2 linked regions of the Homo sapiens genome follow. The protein of the gene in region 1 purifies or fractionates together with the protein of each later gene. This does not show direct contact. Each region holds a gene or a part of one and is shown on either strand. Other genes may lie near its edges.

The links. Proteins that work in one complex are often made in the same cells at the same time.
Region 2: the proteins of ABCC12 (region 1) and SHTN1 purify together in Homo sapiens (affinity purification with mass spectrometry; one large-scale study listed by BioGRID and IntAct). This does not show direct contact.

What each region holds. Positions count from the first base shown.
Region 1 is NC_000016.10:48,142,494-48,145,993, forward strand, and holds part of ABCC12 (ATP-binding cassette sub-family C member 12), read right to left. Parts: intron 1,573-3,500; coding exon 1,417-1,572; intron 1-1,416. UniProt on the Homo sapiens protein: Probable transporter, its substrate specificity is unknown.
Region 2 is NC_000010.11:117,002,388-117,006,502, reverse strand, and holds the start of SHTN1 (shootin-1), read left to right. Parts: upstream 1-1,315; 5' UTR 1,316-1,423; coding exon 1,424-1,481; intron 1,482-4,115. UniProt on the Homo sapiens protein: Involved in the generation of internal asymmetric signals required for neuronal polarization and neurite outgrowth.

The DNA.
Region 1 (3,500 bases):
GAGAGGTGGTCCAGTGCCTTGCCCTCAGTGCTCCCTGGCAACTTTCTCCAGGAGGTAGATTTTGGAATGTACCACTAGCTGAGATTTCTTCGGGGCACAGATGAGGAGAAGCACAATTCTAGAAGCAATTAGGAGGCCATGACTAACACTCCCAGGCCTTCCCCATTCTTTATATTATACATTTAATCAGAACCACAGAGTTCAATGCAGCTGCTGGAAAAAATGAAGTTGATGTCTTCATCCTAACATGGAAAAGTCTTTATAAACTCTTAACTGAAAAGAGCAACATGATCAACAGTTATGTAGTATGCTTCATTTTTTGTTTAGATTAAAATAAAACATGATCTGTGAGTGGGGGGTAAGAAGAGGTACTGATCTGAAGAAGACGGTAGCCCAGGGTGTGTTTAATCAGAGTAGGAAAATTCTGGACAGAGCCACAGTGAGATTTTCATAGTGCTTGCCTCCAGGGAGTAGAGCAGGAGCATGGGAGAGATCCTTCCACGGCTTAAACTTCTGCTGCTTTCACATTTTTATAATGAATATGAATTAGGTTGGACAAATGACATTTACATTTTTACAAGTTAAAATTGTCAAATATTGGCAGTTTCATTAGGATCAACCTAAATATATTTTGTAATATAAAAGTCCAATAATGATGTTTAAAGTAAAACAAAACCTGATGCTGCATGCTGGTCAAGTGGGGTCTGACCAGCACAGGGCAAAGTGAGATTCCAGCCACCTCTGTCCTGATGCGGTGCCCCTGCAAACCAGCTGGAGCTCAGCCAGAAGGGTCCTGAGCCTCAGGCCATAGCTCTTCAATGAGTCCTCTCTCCCCGCTAATGCTGCCTAATTCCCACCTCCCCACAGCTTGGGCCAAGAAGTTCATGCAGTCCAGCCCAAATCTCAGAGAATGGTTACCAACACCCATTGGTGTCATTTTCCATGTTGGGGAAATTGTGAAGCACACAACTAGGGAGCACACAAAAGAGTTTATGGGACCCCTTCCTTAGAGTGGGCTTCTCTCCTGAGGTGACTGATACAGTTTGGCTGTGTCCCCACCCAAATCTCATCTTGAATTTTAGCTCCCATAATCTCCACCTGTCGTGGGAGGGACCTGGTGGGAGGTAACTGAATCATGGGGGTGGATTTTCCTGTGCTGTTCTTGTGATAGTAAGTCTCATGAGATCTGATGGTTTTACAAAGGACAATTCCTCTGCACACACTGTCTTGCCTGCCACCATGTAAGACGTGCCTTTACTCCTCCTTCACCTTCCACCATGATTGTGAGGCCTCCCCAGTCACATGGAACTGTGAGTCCATTAAACCTCTTTTTCTTTATAAATTACCCACTCTCAGGTATTTCCTCATAGCAGTATGAAAATGGACTAATACAGTGACCCAAGCAAATCCTGGTACCTTTTGGCATTGGTGTCAGATGAGTCATATGTCGACAATGGGGGCAGGGTGTCTACGGTCAGCCTTTGCCGGTAGCCTTTCACCATCACCGGCGTGAGCCAGGAAAATGTGGCGAAGGAGAGTAGCCCGGCATCATCCACCGGGTTGGGTGCTAACCTGCAGACAAACAAGACACTCAGCGTTCCAGGCACTGGGGTCATTGCCCCAACTCTCTCTCTGGATTGAACTTGTAACTACAGCAACAACCACAGCTGCACTCAGAATCTGTGACTTGCATTCATTATGTTTATTAGCCCTTTGAGCAGTGATGTGCTGGGGCCAGCTGGTGAGAGCCAATTGTTAAATTTTCAGGAATTTTGCAAGTTAGTTGTTAAACACAGTCAATATTCAAAATTAAATTACCTAAGTTTTAATAAATTGTCTTAAAGACAAAGGTAATAATACTCAAAACCCATCACTTCCTTTTTTTGTTCTTCTTCCTTCATTTCTTCTTCCCCTCCTCTTCCTTCTTTTTTCCCCTCCCATTCCTCCTTCTCTTCCTTTTTTTCCTCCTTCTCCTCTTCTTCCTCCTCCTCCTGCCCAGAATTGCAGGGCATTAATACCCCCAGGGGCAAAACTTCACTAAGGTAGTATAGAAGTCCACCTCACATCCTCTGGGTGGAAAACTGGACACTTTCTAGAAGGACCTAGTAGGATCCAGGCCCCTCTGCTCACAGCAGTGACGCTGAGGCCACACCTCACTTTGCCTTTTCCTCCTTCCCTACATCACTCTCCCTAAATCTTTCTTCTTGCTGCTTGGAATCACTTCTCAAATAAGCTATTTGCCTCCAGGTTCTTGACTGAGGCCCTGCTTTTGGGAGAATTCAAGCTAAAATCATGTGAATAAGGTACTACGAGCTCAGCACATAGTAAAAATTCCCTAAAAGGTGACTTTCATGATACAGTCATGCATTACTTCATATATTCCTCACAACAACTCAGTAAGATGGGTGGCAGGGTCATATTATATGCCTATTTCATAGACAAAAACATCAAGGCACAGAGAGTTTAGAGTATTTGCCCAAGGTCTTACTGCTGGAAAGTGGTGAGATGGGAATTCAAACCCACTGCTTGTTGACTCCAGTGTCCTGTCATTCCCTTCAGCACCTCCCCACATTGCCTCTCCACAAAGCGATTATAAACTGGTTGAAAAAGTGGACAGTTAGAGATCTCCTGGGGCTAGGAATAATAGCCCACGTCCTCACCTTCCAACCTCCACCTCTCACCTTGGAGGGCTTAAATGTGTGTGTCCTTGGCCCAGACAGAGATGCTGGGAGAAGATAACGCAGTGTCCGCTTATTATAGAGTTGCCACTTGGCCTTCTGCTGCTCAGAGAACAAACCACAGGGCCTCGTTCCATGTAGAAAAGGCAGCATTTCATAATGTTATGGTTAGCATAATGCTAATAATATATATAATAATACAATATGCTGCAAGGTTGAGCATGTGAGCTCAGAAATCAGACTACCTGAGTTTCTATCCTGGATTTCAAAAATGACCCCGTTTTCTCTCCCCATCTGTTCCCAATTCCTTGGAATGTGACCTGGCAGCTCATTCCATCAAAAAGTCGAGTCTGTTTCCTCACACTTTGAATATAAGCTGGCTTGTGATCTGCTTTGGCCAATAGAATACAGTGAAAAAAGTGGTGTGCCAGTTGCAAACCTGAATCTCAAGAAGCCCTGCATGCTGTCACTCATTCCCTTGGAAGCCTGCCACATTACTGTGTGACCGAGCCTGGGCTAGCCTGCTGGAGGTTGAGCACACGCGGGGTCCAGTTGCCCCATTGCCCCAGCCAACAGCCGGCCCACCTCCAGCAGCACAGCCACCTTGCTGTACAGGAGTAAGCCTGGTCAAGACCAAATGAACCACCCAGCTGAGCTCAGCCCAAGTTGCTTTATTTTATGGGTCACCCATCAAACTGTAAGCTAAATGAGTGGCAATTGTTTTAAGCTGCTAAGTGTTGAGACAGTCTGTTACAAAGCAAAAGCTACCTGGTAAACCTTAGGCAAGTCACTTAACCTCTCTGTGCCTGTTTCCTCACCTAT
Region 2 (4,115 bases), on another chromosome or scaffold:
GCTCCGCCTCCCGGGTTCACGCCATTCTCCTGCCTCAGCTTCCCGAGTAGGTGGGACTACAGGCGCCTGCCACCACGCCCGGCTAATTTTTTGTATTTTTAGTAGAGACGGGGTTTCACCGTGTTAGCCAGGATGGTCTCGATCTCCTGACCTCGTGATCTGCCCGCCTTGGCCTCCCAAAGTGCTGGGATTACAGGCGTGAGCCACTGTGCCCGGCCACAGACCTGTAATCTTTATTAAAAACAAAAAAACAAAAAAAAAACAAAAAAAAACTGCATTATAAATTCTGGACTTGGTGTTTTGTTAATCTTCCTCTATTAAATCCTTACAACTCTTCCTTGAGAGTAGGTATCACTATTCTTCCTATTCTTCAGATGAAGTTCAAAGATGCAGGAGACTTGACCAAAGGTTAGCTCGCAACTAGGGGTTGGGGAGAAGCACCTTTGAAACAATGCAGACCTGCCACTTCTCTCCTGGGCATGGTCTAACACAGACATGAGTTCAAATAGTTCAGAGGGCAGTGAACTGGGACAAACGCTTGGCTTAACTGCCAGCCTCTGCTGCCCGGGGGCTGCGTGACCTTCGGCATTCGGACTGCAGTGGCACCCTCTCTAAAGGGAAGGTCATCCCGCCACCAACCAGATGATCTGCAAGGGCCCTCCAGGCCCCACCATCCACGTGCAGCAGGGTCCACGTTCTGACCACCTGGCAAACCTGGTGCGATGGGGGAAAGCTAGCCAGGGCCCTCCTTCACTCACGGCATGGTCATTTAAGTAGCTGGGCGGCCTGATTCGATCCTTGTCTCCTCTTCAAGGTGCAAAATGTACCACCCTGGGCCCGCCCCTGTGGGCAGCTAGGTTTTGCAACCGCGCCCCCAGAGTCTACTGCGGGAAAACTAGGGAAGAAGCCCAGGCGTTCATGGCTCATTGCGTCCCGCTCTACCTCTGTGGTTCTTTGGGAGCGACCCCCGGGAAGCGTCCAAAGTGGAGTTCCCACACACGCTGCGAACCCACAGCCGGTTTTCTCTGAACTCGCGTCCCTGAGTCCGGGAGGTGGAGGCGGAGAAAAGGGTGCGGAGCGACCCCACGCAGGGCCGCCCCCCCTCCCACCAGCGCGTCCTGCCGCGCCGGCAGCCACAGGCTGGCATAGCGGCTGCCGACCCGCCCTCGTTCCTCCACCCCCTGAACGGGACTGCTGGGCCCGCCCCGCCCCGCCTGCAGGTGAAGCGGCCGCAGCCGCCGAGTAGGTGCGTGGGGATGATCTCACTCGCGCGCTCCGCGCCAGGAGGAGGAGGAGCGGGAGCGGATCCAACTTCCGGGTAGTGGAGCCGCAAGCCACCGGCATCTTGCTTTTTCTTCCCCCTCCTCCTGTGTGCCCCGCGCCGCTCCCTCTTTCCCTTTTATTCCCGGCCCCACCCGCCAAAATGAACAGCTCGGACGAAGAGAAGCAGCTGCAGCTCATTACCAGTCTGAAGGAGCAAGGTAGGCAGCACGCGGGCGCCAGGTGTGGGCAGCCGCGGCCCGTGGGCGGGGACGGCCCCAGGGCGCTGGGGCCAGGGCAGTTGGAAGCCGGGCGGGAGACGTGGCGGCCGCCGTGGTCACCGCAGTAGCTCCGTCACCCGCAGAGAAGCGTCCTCCGTGGCCGGCGCGCCTGGGAAAGCTCTGGACCGAGGATAACGCGGAGTGTCGGGGCTAGTCAGGCCCCGCAGCTCGAGACCCGCTGCCCGCTGGTTGCGTTTGCTGGCGATCGGGGGCTGGGGGAAGGGACGAGGATTCAGTGCGGACGAGGTTGCACAGTGCCACCTTCCTTGCCGGAGAAGCGGGTGGGGCAGGATATTTTGGCTGCTTTGGGCGGCTCAGCTAGCTTGGCCCCACCCTTACACATTTGTTGGCGCTGGGTGGCCTGTAGGGCTGTTTCACACCCTTCCCAGCTTTTCGTTTGGATTCGGTCTAGTTCCTCTTTCCTTGCCCAGCTGGGATTTTCAGGCCATAATTTTTTTTTTAATCACTTCTCAATTTTAGCAGTTTATTAGTCAGCAAGGTCAACATCCTGCCAGTGTTGAGCTTTCAGAATTAACAGGGTTGACGCTGGGCGAAGGAGAGCCAGGCCATGCGCACGCATTTCTGTACTGCTTGGTAACTGGGGATTATCCTTTAATAAAGACCTGCTTCAGTCAATCATTTTTTTCATCAGTTACCACACTTCTGAACCAAACCAGATCAACAACCAAATGCTAACCTATCACATTTAAACACTTATCATTATTACCCTGACCAAAGGGTGGTCTGCGAATGTGGGTCAAGACAGGGAGGAACCAGCCGGGTGCGGTGGCTCACGCCTGTAATCTCAGCAATTTGGGAGGCCGAGGCAGGTGGATCACCTAAGGTCAGGAGTTCGAGACCAGCCTAACCAACATGGAGAACCCCTATCTCTACTAAAAATACAAAATTAGCCGGGCGTGGTGGTGCATGCCTGTAATCCCAGCTACCCGGGAGGCTGAGGCAGGAGAATCGCCAGGAGGCGGAGGTTGCGGTGAGCCAAGATGGCGCCGTTGCACTCCAGCCTGGGCAACAAGAACGAAACTCCATCTCCAAAAAAAAATAATAATAATAAATAATAAAGAAATAAAGGGAGGAACCATACAGATTTAAAGGAAGTAAAAATGTGTAGGAACATGTACTTTTCTGAATGTCTTGCTGACAAGACCATGTAATGGAAGGATCCCTGCTCTGTGGCAAAACCTGGTATTTAGTTGCAGCTCTTTCACTTCTCTTGGCCCAGCTCACCTGCTCTGTGAACTTGGAGGAGTCTCTTTCCTTCCGTGGATCTTCTGGTCAATCAAGGCCGACCTGACTAAAGGCGAGGGTGAAACTGGAGGACTTTCTGAGGTCCTGTCCAGTACTCTTACCTGTTGTTGCGTAAAACCACAGACACCGTTGGGAAGTGCTCCCGGATTCCTCTGAAGCCACACTCTGGCAAACAAATTTCAACATTACTGTTTACTGTGTGACCCTGGGGAAATTATTTAACCTCTGAAATGGACATAACACATTCTTCTGTGATATCCAGCATCTAGAAAGTGCTGGATAAATGTTAGTCTCTTTGGCCTTCCCAGCACCTTTACCTGGCATCCTAGATTAGCCTGAGGTCATAAAGTCACAAGCATCAGTGAATTTAGTGGGTGGACAGAATGCCTTTATCTGAAGTTTCTCAAGTGTTTTAGCGAGGGACTGGATTCTACTGACTGGTATTTTATATTTAATACACCTTCGCCCAACCCAAAACATTAAAACTTGATTCATATTCTAGATTTGTGGAGCTTTCATTATAGGTAATATCTGTCAGTGGATATCAGATCTTCTTATGGTTGGTCAGTTTTCGAATAATGATAAACATAAAAAAATTTTCCCTTTCATTTCTTGTATAATCAAGGGTCGATTAACAATGTAGATAATCTGCAAATTGCTTATATTTGATTTCGGAACACATTCTCCATTCCTATGTTGGGTTTGAGGCCTGACAAAAAGGATTTCTATATTTGTGGCTCTTTCTCCTATTGCATTGTATTGGAAAATAAACAAATCCTTGGCATTGGTATTTTTAGAGGATATATTTCCTTGATTAAGTGCATATGAAAGGTAATAGAACAGTTAGATATTCAAAGTTGTGTTTCTTAAAAGGTACACTTTTGGGGATAGTGAGTCTAGTTACAAAGGTGTTGGGATTTTTTCAGCCCACAGTGTGATTTTTATACATTTCAAAACCAGGTAGTTTGCTTGTCATTGGATCACAGACTGTGGAAACAATTTACTTCAAAAGTGTTCAGTTACTGTTTGACCTGTAGAACTAATTGGGAAGCTAGGGATTTGGAAGAACAGGTAACTGGGTCTTTGAGCATTTAACAGTACATACTATGATCAATTTTGTAAGCTGATGGTTGCATGGTTTATTTTTGAAAATAGTAATTTTTACTACCTGTTACTACCTTTTTACTCACAATGTTAATATTCTGAGTGATAATTCCACTACCCCTATTTAGTGTGAGCAAGAAGAACCACTATTTATCAAATATGTTATTTTCCCTTAATAATGCTGAGTAAACATATTTATTCATT